2 linked regions of the Homo sapiens genome follow. The protein of the gene in region 2 binds, or shares a complex with, the protein of the main gene of each other region. Each region holds a gene or a part of one and is shown on either strand. Other genes may lie near its edges. The genes, in order: CINP and AIRIM.

Region 1 (7,987 bases), on a different chromosome or scaffold from region 2:
TATAGAATATTTTTAACATTTTAAAATTCACCAGATAGAGCTGAATCCTCTTCCAGCTTAATGGCTCCACAAAGTTTTTACCTTAAGCCCTTTGTTTTCCAAAGATTGGAAATAAGGTAAAGTTGTGACTGTCTGCTAAAACTCTTCAATGGCTCACGTTCCCTTCCCTACAGGATAATCTAGCCCTGACTCCCGAGTACTTCCACTATCTAGTCTCAGGCACTCTGATACTTTAAATTTGCTCAGAGTAGCGTGGCCCATGAGTGCTAATCATTTCAAGACACTGAGACAACAGAGATGCAGAGTTGATCACGATGCTGCCACTGCCCTTCTTGGTAATCAGGAGGAAGTCCAAAATCCTTCCAGACCTAGCTACCCCTCCACATCATCACGTACATCAACCCACACCTTGGCCCCCCGTCAATATCCAGCGAAAATGAACTACTGGCAGCTCTTGAAAAGCTGAGGTGCCTGCAGGCCTTTACACGTGTTCTCTCTGCAGGAAAGCTCCTTCCTTCCTCAGGCTCACGATGCCCATCCTCCAAGATGCACCCGGATCCCACTGCCTGTAGGAAGCAACCCCCAGACCACCAAGAGCCAACTCAGGTTGTTTGTTCTCCCCGAACCCTCCTGTGCCCTCTTGCCTTCTCTACTTTGAACCCCACAAAGGCTTCTCACTGCCCACAGGATAAAGTCCTCTTGAGGAATCCAGGACACACAACAGCTGGATGGTTTGATGCCTCAAGTCAGAAGACCACACTGCCTGCGTCTGAACCCCAGCTCGCCAGCTGTGAGATCTTGGGCAACTTAATGTACCTTTCAGAGCCTCAACATTTTCATCTGTAAAATGGGAATAAAAATAGTATCTATTTCATAGGATTGCTGAGATTAGATAATATATGTGAAGCTGTGAGGCCTCGCACAAGGCAAAAACCCAGTATCTCACCTGTTAGCTCAAGGGCCTCTACTATCCAAGCTCTGCCCACCACTTCAGCTTCTACCCTTTCCCACTTGCCCTCTGTGCATCAGAGCTGGCTCTGTACAAGTTCTGACTTTGACCTGGAATATTTTTCCTATCTGTGTGTGTCCCCACTCCCCTGCCTCATACTTAGTATCCTCACTTTAAAATATCATCTTGATTTATCATTCATTCTTTACTTAAACAACAAATATTTGCTTACTGCCTACAATACGCCAGGCATGGGGGAATGAAGTGATTGAATGAGACGGACCAGGACCGTTTTCATGGAACTTACTTTCCAAAGGGGAGGCAGATAATAAACAAATGACCACGATCAGTTCAGATCATGATTAAGTGTGTGTGGAAAATAAAACAGGGTCTTGTGTTAGTGTGATCCCCTGAGAAGGTGTCGTTTAGGCTGAGATTTGAATGATGAAAAGCCAGAAATAGGGTAGGTCAGTAGTATGTGCCCTAATTATGATAATGAGGTTGGTGAGTTCAAAAAACAGAAAACAAAACAAAACAAACAAGCAAACAAAAAAACCAGTGTGCTGGAATGAAATAGACAGAAAAGGACTAGTGCGTGAGTAGGTGATCAGACAACTAGAACCTAATAGGCCAAGATAAGAAGTTGGACCGAGGGCAGTGGCTCACGCCTGTAATCCCAGCACTTCAGGAGGCCAAGGCGGGCGGATCACGAGGTCAGGAGATCGAGACCATCCTGGCTAACACAGTGAAACCTCATCTCTACTAAAAAAATACAAAAAATCAGCCGGGCGTGGTGGCGGGCGCCTGTAGTCCCAGCTACTCAGGAGGCTGAGGCAGGAGAATGGCGTGAACCCGGGAGGCGGAACTTGCAGTGAGCCCAGATCGCGCCACTGCACTCCAGCCTGGGTGACAGAGCGAGACTCCGTCTCAAAAACAAAACAAAACAAAACAAAACAAAACAAAATAAAAAAATGAAGTTTGGACTTCTAAGTATTAGCTTGGTGCAAAAGTAACAGATTTTGCCATTACTTTTAACAGCCAAAATTGCCATTACTTTTGCACCAACCTAATACAATGGGGAGTGAGCAATGAGCTCTGGATAGGGCAGTGAAATTATCTGATTTAGGTTTTTAGAAAGTCATTTCCACAGAGAAGTATTCCTGGATCCCCCAGGTTGGGTTACGACTCACCACTAGATATGTGGTACACCCTATAATTCTGCTATCATGATATTCACCAGTGGAGTGTATTTGCTTGTTTAATGTCTATATTCCCTGCTAAACTGGAAATTCGACTAGGGTAGGAACTATGTCTCGTTCTCTTTCAAACCTTCCACACATAGGAGGCTTTGCATAAAATGAGGTAAATGGAGGAATAGCTCTTACCACCTGTTCTATAATTGTCTAAGGGTTTTCCCCCCAACAGGAGATTCTGAGGGCAGGATCACATCTGATTCATGGTCAGCCTGACTCATACGGGGCACATATTTAGGAACCAAAAACATAACTGACTTCAAGAAACTCAAGGGCTGGTAAAGACAGACCAGTCATCAGCGTCACAGGACAGGGTAGGGTGAGGGCACAGTGGCTAAGTTACTTATCCCCTCTGAGCCTCGATTCCCCATCTGCAAAATGGGGTTGACATTACTTCATGGGACCACTGTGAGGTTCAAATGAGATGATCCACTTAAAGTGCTTGGAGCAGTACTCAGCAAACTGAGCACTAGGCGAAAGCCAGCTTTCATTACAAGCAGAATGTTCTGACTGAGGGCAGTTCAGAGAGGAGTTTCTGGACGAGATGAGCATGCAAGGCTTGGTACCCAGTGAACTCTGTTAGTACTAATTTATAGTGACAATAATTACAATTTGGATGTCGGATCTGCTGACACTCATTTGCGTATATCGTCCCGTTCATCTGTCACTGCACATGTGAAAAAACGGAGGCTCGGCAAAACTGTCTCCCGAGCAGCTCGCAGAGGCTGCGAGGGGCCTGCGGGCTAGGCTGGGGTAAGACAGAGGACCTCCATTTAACCTCATGTAATCCGGGGAGCTCCTGAGCTTCTGGTCCAACCTGCGGCCTAAGCAGTAACATTCACAGCCACCCCACCCCGGGAAAGGAACCGATCTCACGCACCTTCCATAAGGTCCACAGATATCCGTAGAAGGAGACGCGAAGCCCCGCCCACCCCACCGGAAACGCATTTGCGTCACGTCCGCCCCGCCCGCTGCCACTTGTGGCTCTGCCGCTCTAGCCCCCGGCGGAGCCAGCTGCTGCTCTTCGGTGCTGGCCCCGGTGCCGGCCCCGTTGCCCAGGGAACAGGCTCCCGGCAGCCCCCGCGGCCCGGAGTCCATCCCGCCTCCTCCGGCCCGGCGGGGCCGACGAGTCCGGAGGGGCTGCCGCGGGAGGTGAGTCCGGCGACGCCGCAAGCGGCCCCGACGCCCCCGACGCCCCCGACGCCTGGCCCCGAGCCCCTCCTCGGCCTCCCCCGGGCCACTCTTCCCTTGCCTCAGCCCCGCAGGGTCTCCATGCCCGTCCGCCCCGTCTCCCTCGCCCGCGGTCTCGCCCGCGCGGAGTGGCGGACACTAAATGCCACAACACACGGAGCGCCTGGCTCGCCGCCCGCAGAATCCGGCGGTCCGCAGCGGGGAACAGGGGCCGCCCGCCCCTCCTCAGGCCTCCGCTGCGCGTCCCGCGCCCTCGGCCCCCGGCCCCACCCTGCATCCCGGCTGCCGGTCTGGCCGCGGGCTCTGCTCCTTCGCCTTAAGATTGACGTCGTGTTCTGTCCCCCACTCGCAGCCCGCGTCCCTTACATCCGCCCACCGGCGCCTGGCCCCAGGCCTTGACACTCATCCAGTTGGTGTTCAGTGTTCGATGAGTGGATAAGTGAATGACTCCTTTCCCAATCCTATTTGAAGGCATGGGAGGCAGAATAGGTAGTAAGTGTTAAAGGATGGGGTGTCCTGGAGTCAGAGCCGGGCAGGTCCCAGCGGCCCCTTCCTAGCTCTGTGCTGGGGCAAGTGCCCTACCTCACTCCGCTCCAGTTTCATCACCAGTGGAATGGAGATGAGAATAGTTTCTACCTCTGGCTTGGTAAGAGGATTAAATGGGTCAGTGCATGTAAAGTTAAGCACGGTGCCTGCCGCTGTACATTTCAGTAAAGGGGAGCCCCTGCTGTCATCTGTGCTAGCCTGCGTTCTCGCCCTCTAGTCCCTTCTGATATGTCTCTGACTTCTCATGACTTTAGTTTCTCCTTCTCTACCTCCATTTCTCTTCCCTGCACTTTTTTCTTCCTCTCTTATTGGGATTCAGGAATTTTATTCTGTTCTGTGACTTATGTTCCATGTGTTGGCAGAATGTGGGATACCAGCCTGGGTGCATCCTTTTCTCATCTATTGGAGTGACCAGTTGCACTTGTGGACTGCCTCCTTGCAGCCAAGGTCTTGTAGACAGAGTTCTGGGAAATCTCAAAACGCAAATCCCAGGCATAGGTAGAATCTGGGAATGAAGCCACTGTAGCTCCTTGTGATCACCAGCGATTCCTGGTCTTTTAGGCTGCAGGACTTTGTGTTTTCTCACACCCAGCTATAATGTACCTTGATAAACCTCTGACCTTATTTTTGTTGTTGTTGTTGTTAACCTGACTTACGTCCCATATTGGTGGTTATTTGGCCATCGTGTGCCAGCACTGTGCCAGGCTGGCTCTAGGGATGCTGTGGTGAACCAGACAGACCCTTCCTGAGGTCACTGCCTCAGAAAGATCATGGTCTGGCCCATGAACTTTAAAAGGGAGAACTAAGTGCAGGTGTAGGGGACACACAAATTGAATTTTCAGGACTGCCTTGGAAAACCAGTGGTGGGGAAGATGGAATGAGGATAACCCTCTTCTGAAGGAGTGACTAGGAAGTAGCTTTTGTTAGGCATCAGCTATATTATACCCACGTGTCTTTTTCAATAGAAGACTGGCATCTACTGGATTTTTTTTTCCAATTTTTTCTTAAAGAAGTTACACTTAAGTTTGGGGAGAATTTCATTTCATATTAGCCGCTGTAGGAGTTGAAAAAAATGGCTACTGGAACTTAGTGGGAAGAAAAGGAAGGAAACAGGCATCAGGCAGAGGCAGTTGATTGAACTTGGGAAGATGAGGAATAGATCAGGAAAGGGTTATAATGAAAAGCTTTGGTGTCAAGCACGAAGAGATTTCTAGATTCAGTAATGCACAGAGAGATCAGTAAAATTAGAAGGGAGTAGTTGATGGCTTTGCGAATTGCTAAGGTAGAAGGGAGCTGTTACTCAAGATGCATGTTCAATTTAAAATGAATGTATTCTTTGGACCTGGACATAAGAGTTCTATTGACTTTTTGCCACTATTTTATATTTAGGGCTGTCATACTTGGGTGAATCTAGCACAGTGCTTTGAGAGAGAGATTCATTCAACAAACGTGTATTGAGCATTGATTGTACCATACTCTTTATTGGTCTTTTAAAGCACCACAAAGTATACAGACTAGAAGAACATAGGTGAAGATGAGAAAGAGTCCATTGAAGGGGAGAGAAAACAGATAATGATGGTGCTGTGCGATAACTGCCATCATGGAGTTCTGTGAAAGCAGAGAAAGACCAACCAAGTATCTGAGGGAATTTATGAAGGCTTCCTGGTGGCGGAGGACTAGTTCTTACAGGGCACATGTGGGGGAATAGGGAAGAGTGGAAAGGGACTTTGTTCTGCAGAGACATACAGGTTATGGTGTGTGCAGGGACTGTGATGGAAAGCTGATGGATGCACAAACAAAACGTGGCCTGTCTACACAATGGAAGGCTGTTCAGCAATAAAAAGGAACGAAGTACTGATTTGTGCTACAACATGGAGGAACCTTGAGAACATTAGGCTAAGTGAAAGCAACCAGACACAAAATACCACATATTATATGATTCAATTTTGATGAAATCTCCAGAATAGGCGAACTGTAGACAGAGAGGAGATCAGTGGTTGCCCAGGGCTGAGAGAAGAAGCGTGTAGAGGGGTGATTGCTAAAGGGTAGGGAGTGCACAGTGTGTGGATGGAAGAGTGGCCTGAGATGAAGTTAGATATAGACTGTTTTGTCATAGTGTCTAATTTCCATGCTTGTGTTAGGCTTTAGCTTGTGACCATTGGGTAGCCAATGGGGATGGGAGCAAGGAAGTGACAAAATTTTGTCTGGAAGATAAATGACTGCCTCAGTCTCATTACGTTCCTCCTTAATAATTTAATACTCAAATAATTAATAGATGTCGTAGCCAGATTTCAAACATAGATTCTACAATAGGGATACAAATTGTTGCTTCCTAGGGATTTTGGAGAGAATCCTGAAACCATTAGTGTACCCAGAGCACTCTGATAACATGGTTATTGTACAGCGAAGTGGATGACTTAGACTCTATATTAGTCCTAGCTCCAGTTTGAGAAATCATCCATCTGGGTGGCAGTTGGGTGTTAGTAGTCAGCAGTGAAGGCTAGCTGCCACCTTCCAGGGTTATGAGATTGACAGGGCTAGTGGGGAAAGGAAGCATCGTAACTTGAAGGATGCCATAGGGTGGTGTTTTGTATTTTTTTAACTGAAATAGTCATGACTAAGGAAGCATTATTCATTATATTTTTATTTATTTATTTATTTTTGAGATGAAATATCACTCTGTCACCCAGGCTGGAGTGCAGTGGCACGATCTTGGTTCACTGCAGCCTCCACCTCCCAGGTTCAAGTGATTCTCCTGCCTCAGCCTCCCAAGTAGCTGGGATTACAGGTGTGCGCCACCACACCTGGCTAATTTTTGTATTTTTTAGTAGAGATGGGTTTCGCCATGTTGGCCAGACTGGTCTCGAACTCCTGGCCTCAAGCAATCCTCCCACCTCGGCCTCCCAAAGTGCTGGGATTACAGGCGTGAGCCATCATGCCCAGCCCAATTTTAAAAATTGGATTGAGACTATTGTTTTGCAGTAAGACCTGAAGTTAACAAATCTTTACTGAGCATCTACTCTGTGCCAAAGCTATTATTAGATACTAGGATTTACCTTGGTAAGCAAGAGAGAATTCATGTTGCTTACATTCTTGTAGGAGAGATGATTTTTAAATGGTTTAGCAAATAAAGCAATTAGAGGTTGTAATGAGGATTATGAAGCACATATGATAGAGGAAAGAAGGGACAGTTGGGTACTCTTGAGTGATCTGGTCAGAGAAGGCCTTTCTGTGGTGGTGATATTTAAGCTGAGACCCCACAGTTGAGAAGAAGCCAGATAAATGGAGTGAGATCATTTATTCTGCATAGAGGAAATAATTATGACACCTGAGTGGGACAGAGTGGGTCAGTGGAGCTAGAACTTGGAGGACAAGTGGAGACGGGTAGAGAGGTGACAGGGGAGCTGCAAAGGGCTTAGACCACACGGGGCATTTGGTTTTTATTCTTAGAGCACTGGGCAACCAGTGAGGAGTTTTGAGTAGAATGGGTAGTATGGTCTGATTTCTCTTTGAAGGAGCTGATATTTTCCTTTGTTTTTTGGGGGGTAACAGCTTTATTGAGATATAATTTACATGCCACACAGTTCACCCATTTATATACAATTCAATGGTTTTTACTGTATTCACAGCTATGCAACCGTCACTACGTCAATTTTAGAACTTTCTCATCACCCTAAAAGGAAACTCCGTACCCTTCAGCAATACACCCTAACCCCTTCTTCTCCCAGCCCTGGGCAACCACTGACCTACTCTGCCTACAGCTTGCCTATTCTAGACATTTTGTATACATGGAATCATATAATATATGGTGTTTTGTGCCTGGTTGCTTTCACTTAGCATAATATTCTCAGGATTCCTCCGTGTTGTAGCATGAATCAGTACTTCATTCCTTTTTATTGCTGAACAGGCTTCCATTGTGTGGATAGATCACATTTTGTTTGTCCATTCATCAGTTGATGGACAGTTAGGTTGTTTTGACATTTTGGCTATTATGAGTGGTGATATTATGAACATTTATCTACAAATTCTTTGTAGATATGTTATCATT
Region 2 (7,473 bases):
CCCGGCTAATTTTGTATTTTTTTTTCAGTAGAGACGGGGTTTCTCCATGTTGGTCAGGCTGGTCTCGAACTCCCGACCTCAGGTGATCCACCTACCTCGGCCTCCCAAAGTGTTAGGATTACAGGCATGAGCCACCGTGCCCAGCTAATATATATTTTTTTTTAATTAAAACATTTAAAAAAAAAAACAGGTGCAGTGGCATGCCTGTAATCCCAGTAGTTTGGGAGGGCAAGGCCAGAGGACAGCTTGAAGCCAGGAATTTGAGACCAGCCTGGGCAATATGGCAAGACTATCTCCACAAAAAATTTTAAAAATTAGCTAGGTATGGTGGCATGCTCTTGGAATCCCAGCTACTCAGGAGGCTGGCAGGAGGAGTTAGAGGCTACAGTAAGCTATGATCATACCGCTGCACTTCAGCCTGGGCAACAGGGTGAGACTGTCTCTAAAAATAAAATAAAAATAAATAAAAGACAAAATATTAAGTAAAGCACTCATAGGTACTCACAGCACTCCTGGGTTCAAATGATCCTCTTGTCCTTAGCCTCTCAAAGTGCTGGGATTACAGGAGTGAGGCACCGTACCTGGCCTCATCTTTTTTTTGTTTTGCTTTCCTTTTCATGGAGAATGGGATCTCACTATGTTGCCCAGGCTGGTCTCAAACTTCTAGGCTCAAGCGATCCTCCTGCCTCAGCCTCCCTAAGTGCTGGGATTACAGGCTGAGCTGCCATACCCAGCTGATCTCATCTCTTACCAGGCCTCTGCTCCTGTCATACTTTTCTCTCTTTTTTTGAGACAGAGTCTTGCTCTGTCACCCAGGCTGGAGTGCAGTGGGACAGTCTTGGCTCACTGCAACCTCTGCCTCCCAGGTCCAAGAGATTCTCCTGCCTCAGCCTCCCCTTTAGCTGGGACTACAGGTGTGTGCCACGACAGCCAGTTAACTTTTTTTATTTTTAGTAGAGATGGTGTTTCACCATGTTGGCCAGGCTGGTCTCGAACTCCTGACCTCAAGTGATCTGCCTCCCAAAGTGCTGGGATTACAGCCATAAGCCACCGTGCCGGGCCAGTCATACTATTCTCTATGCACACTACTCATACCCACGTCTTGACTCTGTTTACATCTTTTCAACCATTAGGTTTTTAATATCACTTCCTCCCCAGAAACTTCCCCACTCCACACAAGCCGTACTTATCAATATCTTAGGACATCCCACAATTTAATTCACTGATTGTTTATTTCTTCTACTCAACTAAGAACAGGAACTAAATCTGGTTCATTTTTATATTCTTGGCACCTTGTGCTTGGCATCCCACAAGGTGCCTAATGAACGTATTTTGTACAAATAAATAAAAGGAAAGTCCTCATCTGTGACAGTTTCCTATTAGTCTATGACAGACTCTATATACTGGAACTTTCTTTTGTTCCAGTTCAAGGAAAGGCCACACATGCCCTGTCTCCCCTCTGTCCTCAATAACCTGTAACTCTCAGCCTGGGCAACATAGTGAGACCCTATCTCTACAAAAAATTTTAAAATTAGCTGGGCATGGAAGTGCACGCTTGTTGTCCCAGGTACTTGGGGGGCTGAGGTGGGAGGATCGCTTGAACCAGGGAAATCGAGGCTACAATGAGCTGTGATTGTGCCACTGCACTCCAGCCTGAGTGACAGAGCAAGACCCTGTCTCAAAAAAAAAAAAAAAAAAAAATCTGTAACGCAGGCACTGGGTCTGACAACAAGCATATCAGAACTTGGAGACGTGCTACTCCTGGGCACAGAGACACCAATCTACAGCAGAACAAAGTGGTGATTAAGAGCTCTAGCCTTTGTGTCAGGCACACTTGAGTTAGAATCCCAGCTCTACCCTTTTCTAGCTGCGTCACCATGGGCAATCTGCTTAAGCTTCAGTTTCCTACCTGCATAGAATTAAGTGCAGTTAAGTCACAGATATGTTGAAGAGACTTTATAACGTAATATACATAAACCCCTTAGCTCTAGCACCTACTAAGTTTACACAGCTCCTCACTGCCTTTTACCAAAGAAAACTATAGGGCAGAGCTAATAGGCTTTCTCCGCTCCTTTTCTCTTCTTCTTTTGTGACTTCTACTAAGCCCACCACTGCCATGCCTAGTCTCTGACAAAGAAAATGCCAGAAAATGGCTTTCTGACCGAGGTCCCACTGCCCCAGATGAAGTAAGGAAGGTTGAGATACCTCCACATGCCACGCTTTCAAGGAGAAAAACACCTTCTGGACTGACACTAGCTACATATAAAACACCTCGTTTTAAAATCCTTCCACCAAGAAACAGCACTAGGGAGCTGCTTACAGCCTTTCCCCTAGCTTGTCCAGGACGATGTCACCAGCCACCAGCTGCTTACGCCTCAGCCGCTCTTTTAAATCTGGGAAGGCCCGAAGCGCCGGCACATCCTCAAACCGCAGGTTCTGTGCGGCCTGCAGCTGTTCCGCCAGGTTGCTGAGGGAGGACAGGAGGGGCTGGCAGTCCCGCAGGGCACTCTGCCACAGGCCCTGCTGCTCCTCCACCACGGGGAAGCACTTCTTCAGCGCCTCCTGCACGGCAAGCAGAGGCCGGTCTTGAGTCATCTTCTGCTGAAAAAGATAAAAACAGAAAATAACCACGTTGGGGTGCCAAGTCAGTCGGGGAGGCACTGGGTCGAGGGTGGGCGTCATCTCTGTTATCGTGTTCAGACAGGAGTTGTCTCACCTCCAGAAGCAGGGTTTTTTTTTTGTTTTTTTTTCGAGACGGAGTCTCACTGTCGCCCAGGCTGGAGTGCAGTGGCGCTATCTCGGCTCACTGCAACCTCCGCATCCCGGGTTCAAGCAATTCTCCTGCCTCAGCCTCCCGAGTAGCTGGGAATACAGGTGCCCGCCAACACGCCTGGCTAATTTTTGTATTTTTAGTAGACGGGGTTCCTGACCTCAGGTGATCCGCCCGCCTCGGTCTTCCAAAGTGCTGGGATTACAGGCGTGAGCCACCGCGCCCGGCCTGCCTCAGCTTTCTGAAGGAGACCCTGGTTTCCCCTCGGGAAGGGTAACCTGGATAGGGCAGTCTCCTGCTTCAGAGGATTCCTGGCGTCCAAGCGCCGTCTCTTCTCTGACATACAGTCCTGTCTCCCCTGCCCGAGGCTGCCGGTCGCCTTCCTGAAAAAGCGGAAAAACTTAAAAGTCCAGACAGCCAAAGCGTGAGAACCCTCCAGGGACTGCACCACGCGCCCACAGTCTCTCTGCGCATGCTCACACGCGACCTCCCCACAAAGCTACTCCGCGGGCCTGCCTGGCTACTGAGTCGCGAAAATATATCGTAGTGCCGCAATGACTTCTGGGTACTGTAGTCCAACATGTGGACTGGCCACTCGGCTTGAAGCTTCCTTGGGATTGGATGTTGGGACCGTCCAAACACGGCGACTTCTCATTTGTCAGCCTGCGGCAGTTTAAATTGGGTGGCGGTGGTGGCATGTCCTGTTAGCTGTGGAGTCTTTTCCTCTTATCTTGCGCCTCCGGTTGTGCCTTAATGACACTTTTGACATTGTGTATCACAACCAACTGGCAAAAACTAGTAAATCACGGGCTCCTGACGTGGCAGCTCTGGCTAAAATGCAGGTGGACGTCCTAGGTGCCCAGGGAGTTCGGGCTCACTGGGGAGTAGGGTGAAGGAAACCCTGAAACCGAGAGGCTGGAAGCCCGACTTGCGCAGCATAAAAACACCTGCAGGGGGAAAGCCTACATGAGGTACGGGTTGTCATCCCGTCTCATCTTGGCCATCTGACTGATGGAGATCCTCAGGCACCCAGCAGACTGGGGTGTCACCCCCACTACCCACTGCCCAGGGCTGACCTCGGGCGGAAGAGCGACATTCAAATATTTGTTGCATATGGAGCAACAGACCAGGGTGGAAGAGAGAGAAAGGACTTTCCAGGAAGGTCCAGGCTTGCCAGGACTTCTATGCTTGGACTGCTCTGTCCCCAAGCTCGCTGGTGCCCATCAGGAGCCTGCTTGGCACCTTTGCTTATTTCTTCGATTGTTCCTCAACTCAGAGGGGGAGAGGCAAGATTATCACTCCCATAGCCTATAACATGCACGCTTAAACACAACCCCTCTGACATGGCTTCAGACCGCATCCACAGGTGAAAAGCACCAAATCCAAACAATCAGGCCACAAACCCGTCAAGAGCTCGCCGGTCTGGCCGTCCAGTCGCCGCCCGCCTTGAGACTCAGCCTGAGCTACAGCTTCGAAACTAGCCTCTAGCCTTCTGGGTCTCAGCACAACTCTTGAGCAATCCAACCCTGTGGCCGTGGGCAGATACCAAGATGCACAGTTAGCACCTCCGACAGGACCGCGGCTCGGCGGGGCTCGCCGTCTACACGCCCATTCCCAGGCCCACGGCCACGACACCCAGAGCTGCCTCCTGCCCTGGGCTCCCTGGAGCCTGGTGGCCGCGGCTCATGCTGCAGTCACCGTGTGGCCAGCTGCCAAGCGCCACTACTTGCACCTGAAGTCGCAGCCCCGCGCTGCGCACCCAGTCGAGGCGCCAACACGCGAACTGGGCGGGAGTGGCCGGCCCGCGGGGGAGCGAGGAACGACAGGGTTCCCCCCACTCGCTGCCCAGACTGGCCGCGGGATAGCGCGCCCCCCCCAAAGCCTGCACCCCTGCCCTGCTCCTCTATCATTCCGTCCCCCTTGCTCTGTCAAACCCTGCCGGGGCTGCTCTGTCTCTGCCGACCCGCCACTTGCCCGAAGTTCGGCCTGAGGAGCTTGGGGCCCTGAGGAGCGCCGACGTAGGCAGCCAGCCAGTCAATCAGTCAGAGGGTCACGGCGGCCCCTCGGCTACTCAGTGGCAGCCAGGCCAGAAAGAAGCAGCCGCCAACCCTGGAGCAGAATCCTACAGCCGACCTGACCTAGTAGGCCCCCAGCCCTCCAGAGCTTGGGGTATTGCAGAGCCGCCACAAGGCCTGCCGGGAGTAGTAGTTTGTATAGTTCGCAGCCGGCCAGGGCGGAGCCGGGTGGGTTGGTGGGGAGGGCGGGGAAACAAGCCTGGACCACAACTCCCAGGAGTACCCGCGACGGCGGCGGCCTCGCTGTCGCACTCAGGCTATAGGGGGCGCATTGGGCGGAAGACCCTGGGCCGGCAGGAACTTGCTTGTGATTGGATGTTGTGGGACGGCGGCTTCTCATTCGTCAGCCTGTGACTGTGGAGTTTGAATTGGGTGGCGGTTGACTGTAGAGCCGCTCTCTCTCACTGGCACAGCGAGGTTTTGCTCAGCCCTTGTCTCGGGACCGCAGGTACGTGCCTGGCGACTTCTTCGGGTGGTCCCCGTCCGCCCTCCTCGTCCCTACCCAGTTTCTTGCTTCCCTGCCCCATCTCCGCCGCTCCCCGCAGCCTCCGCCGAGCGCCATGGCTCCTAGGAAGGGCAGTAGTCGGGTGGCCAAGACCAACTCCTTACGGAGGCGGAAGCTCGCCTCCTTTCTGAAAGACTTCGACCGTGAAGGTAAGGGGCCAGGCCGTCGCGGCCTCCTGGGGCGGTCGCGGGATGCTGGCGGGTGGGGACACGAGCTGCACAGATTCGCCCGCCCGTGACCCGTGTCCTGTCGGCTCTGCCCTCCCGCAGTGGAAATACGAATCAAGCAAATTGAGTCAGACAGGCAGAACCTCCTCAAGGAGGTGGATAACCTCTACAACATCGAGATCCTGCGGCTCCCCAAGGCTCTGCGCGAGATGAACTGGCTTGACTACTTCGGTAAGAGCTGGAGAGCTTCCCTGGGCGGAGGCCAGGAGCCCCTTGGGGTTAGGTGACACCCTTCAGAAAGGGCTCGCTCAGATGTCACCTTTTAATGAGATCTGACATGACCACTTATGGAAAATTGCAGACCCTTTCACTCTCTGTCTCACTTCCCTACTTCATTTTTCTCTATGAAAAATGGGGGGGTGGTTGGGGGGCGGCGGGCGGGGCGGTCTCTGTCGGACAACTCAGCTCTGCTGTTTACAGGTCCAAAACAGCTGTAGTGAATGGGCATGGATGGGCTGTATTCCAATAAAATTTTAGTTATGGATACACTGAAATGTGAATTTCACATAATTTTCACACATCAGGAAATTTATTTAATTTTTTTTAAACAGAGTCTCACTCTGTCACCCAGGCTGGAGTGCAGTGCAGTGCAGTGGTGCGATCCCTGCTCACTGCAACCTCCACCTTCTGGGTTCAAGTGATTCTCCTGCCTCAGCCTCTGGAGTGGCTGGGATTACGGTCGCCTGCCACCATGCCCCGCTGATTTTTGTATTTTCAGTAGAGACGGGGTTTCACCATGTTGGCCAGGCTGGTCTCGAACTCCTGACCTCAAGTGATCCACCTACATAGGCCTCCCAAAGTGCTGGGATTACAGGAGTCAGCCACTGCGCCCGGCCAGAAAATAGTATTTTTAAAAATATATGTATATTTTACCCATTTAAAAATGAATGAATAAATGACATGGTTAGTTAACCAGAGCTCAGATAGAAGAATAACCCGAAGCAGCTCCTTCTGCAGCTTATGGAAATTGCTAACCTAAAAATGGGCGCATCAGGCTGGGCGTGGTGGCTCACGCCTGTAATCCCAGCACTTTGGGAGGCTGAGGCGGGCAGATGACCTGAGGTCAGGAGTTCGAGACCAGCCTGACCAACATGGAGAAACCCTGTCTCTACTAAAAATACAAAAAAGTTAGCCGGGCGTGGTGGCGCATACCTCTAATCCCAGCTACTCTGGAGGCTGAGGCAGGACAATCGCTTGAACCTGGGAGGCAGAGGTTGCGGTGAGCTGAGAGCACGCCATTGCACTCCAGCCTGGGCAACAAGAGTGAAACTCCGTCTCAAAAAAAAAGACACATCAGTTTTCCTGGCCAGAGAAAAATCCCAGCCTGTTTCTGCACTCCCTTATTAAATGTCCGGAGAAATGCAGGAGGCTGTACTTTTCTGCTGGGTTGCCCTTTTCTGTTTTCCTTATTATTAACTATCCAGCATGTAGTCTCCTTCCTGGATAGAAATGCATGGTCTGCTCACATATTAGACATTGAATGATCCTTTTGACTTGCCCTTTTATTTATTAAGCCATTCATTTGCTTATTTCTCCAAATACTGAGCATGTGTCAGTCACAGTGCTAGGTGCTAAAGATGCACTAGGGAATAAAACAGACATTGTCTCTGCCTTCAGGAACATACAGATTAGTAGAAAAGAGCTATTAGAAAAATCCACATACAATTATGTAATTAAAAGTATAGGTACTACAAAGGAGATAGAATAGAGTAGTGGTCAGTGAGCATATTGTGCTTTCTATGCCAGATGGGCATTGTACCAAGTGTTTTACATACATTAACTAATTTTTCTTCATAACTAATAATATCCCTATTTTTCAAAATGACAAGATTAAGGCACAGAGAAATTGGACACTTTGCTCAAGGCCTCATAAGCTAGTTAGTGGGATAGTCTGTT

The links.
Region 1: the proteins of AIRIM (region 2) and CINP are in contact, whole or in part, in a cryo-EM structure (PDB 8RHN), measured with the Homo sapiens proteins. Residues at the interface, in NP_001289959.1 of Homo sapiens: Leu107, Gln110, Ala113, Ala114, Asn116, Leu117, Phe119, Val122, Ala124, Leu125, Phe128, Pro129, Asp130, Leu131, Arg134, Leu135, Lys138, Gln139, Ala142; in NP_116019.1 of Homo sapiens: Leu161, Leu162, Thr165, Glu169, Asp177, Leu178, Leu180, Ser181, Tyr182, Ser184, Met185, His188, Pro190, Tyr191, Val192, Glu193, Ser194.

What each region holds. Positions count from the first base shown.
Region 1 is NC_000014.9:102,359,763-102,367,749, forward strand, and holds the start of CINP (cyclin-dependent kinase 2-interacting protein), read right to left. Parts: upstream 3,129-7,987; 5' UTR 3,090-3,128; coding exon 3,083-3,089; intron 1-3,082. UniProt on the Homo sapiens protein: Component of the DNA replication complex, which interacts with two kinases, CDK2 and CDC7, thereby providing a functional and physical link between CDK2 and CDC7 during firing of the origins of replication.
Region 2 is NC_000001.11:37,687,286-37,694,758, forward strand, and holds the start of AIRIM (AFG2-interacting ribosome maturation factor), read right to left. Parts: upstream 3,245-7,473; 5' UTR 3,114-3,244; coding exon of another isoform or gene 2,931-3,113; 5' UTR 2,717-2,930; intron 2,602-2,716; coding exon of another isoform or gene 2,596-2,601; coding exon 2,321-2,595; intron 1-2,320. Other genes in the region: CDCA8 (borealin), read left to right, coding at 5,406-5,499, 5,620-5,748. UniProt on the Homo sapiens protein: Part of the 55LCC heterohexameric ATPase complex which is chromatin-associated and promotes replisome proteostasis to maintain replication fork progression and genome stability.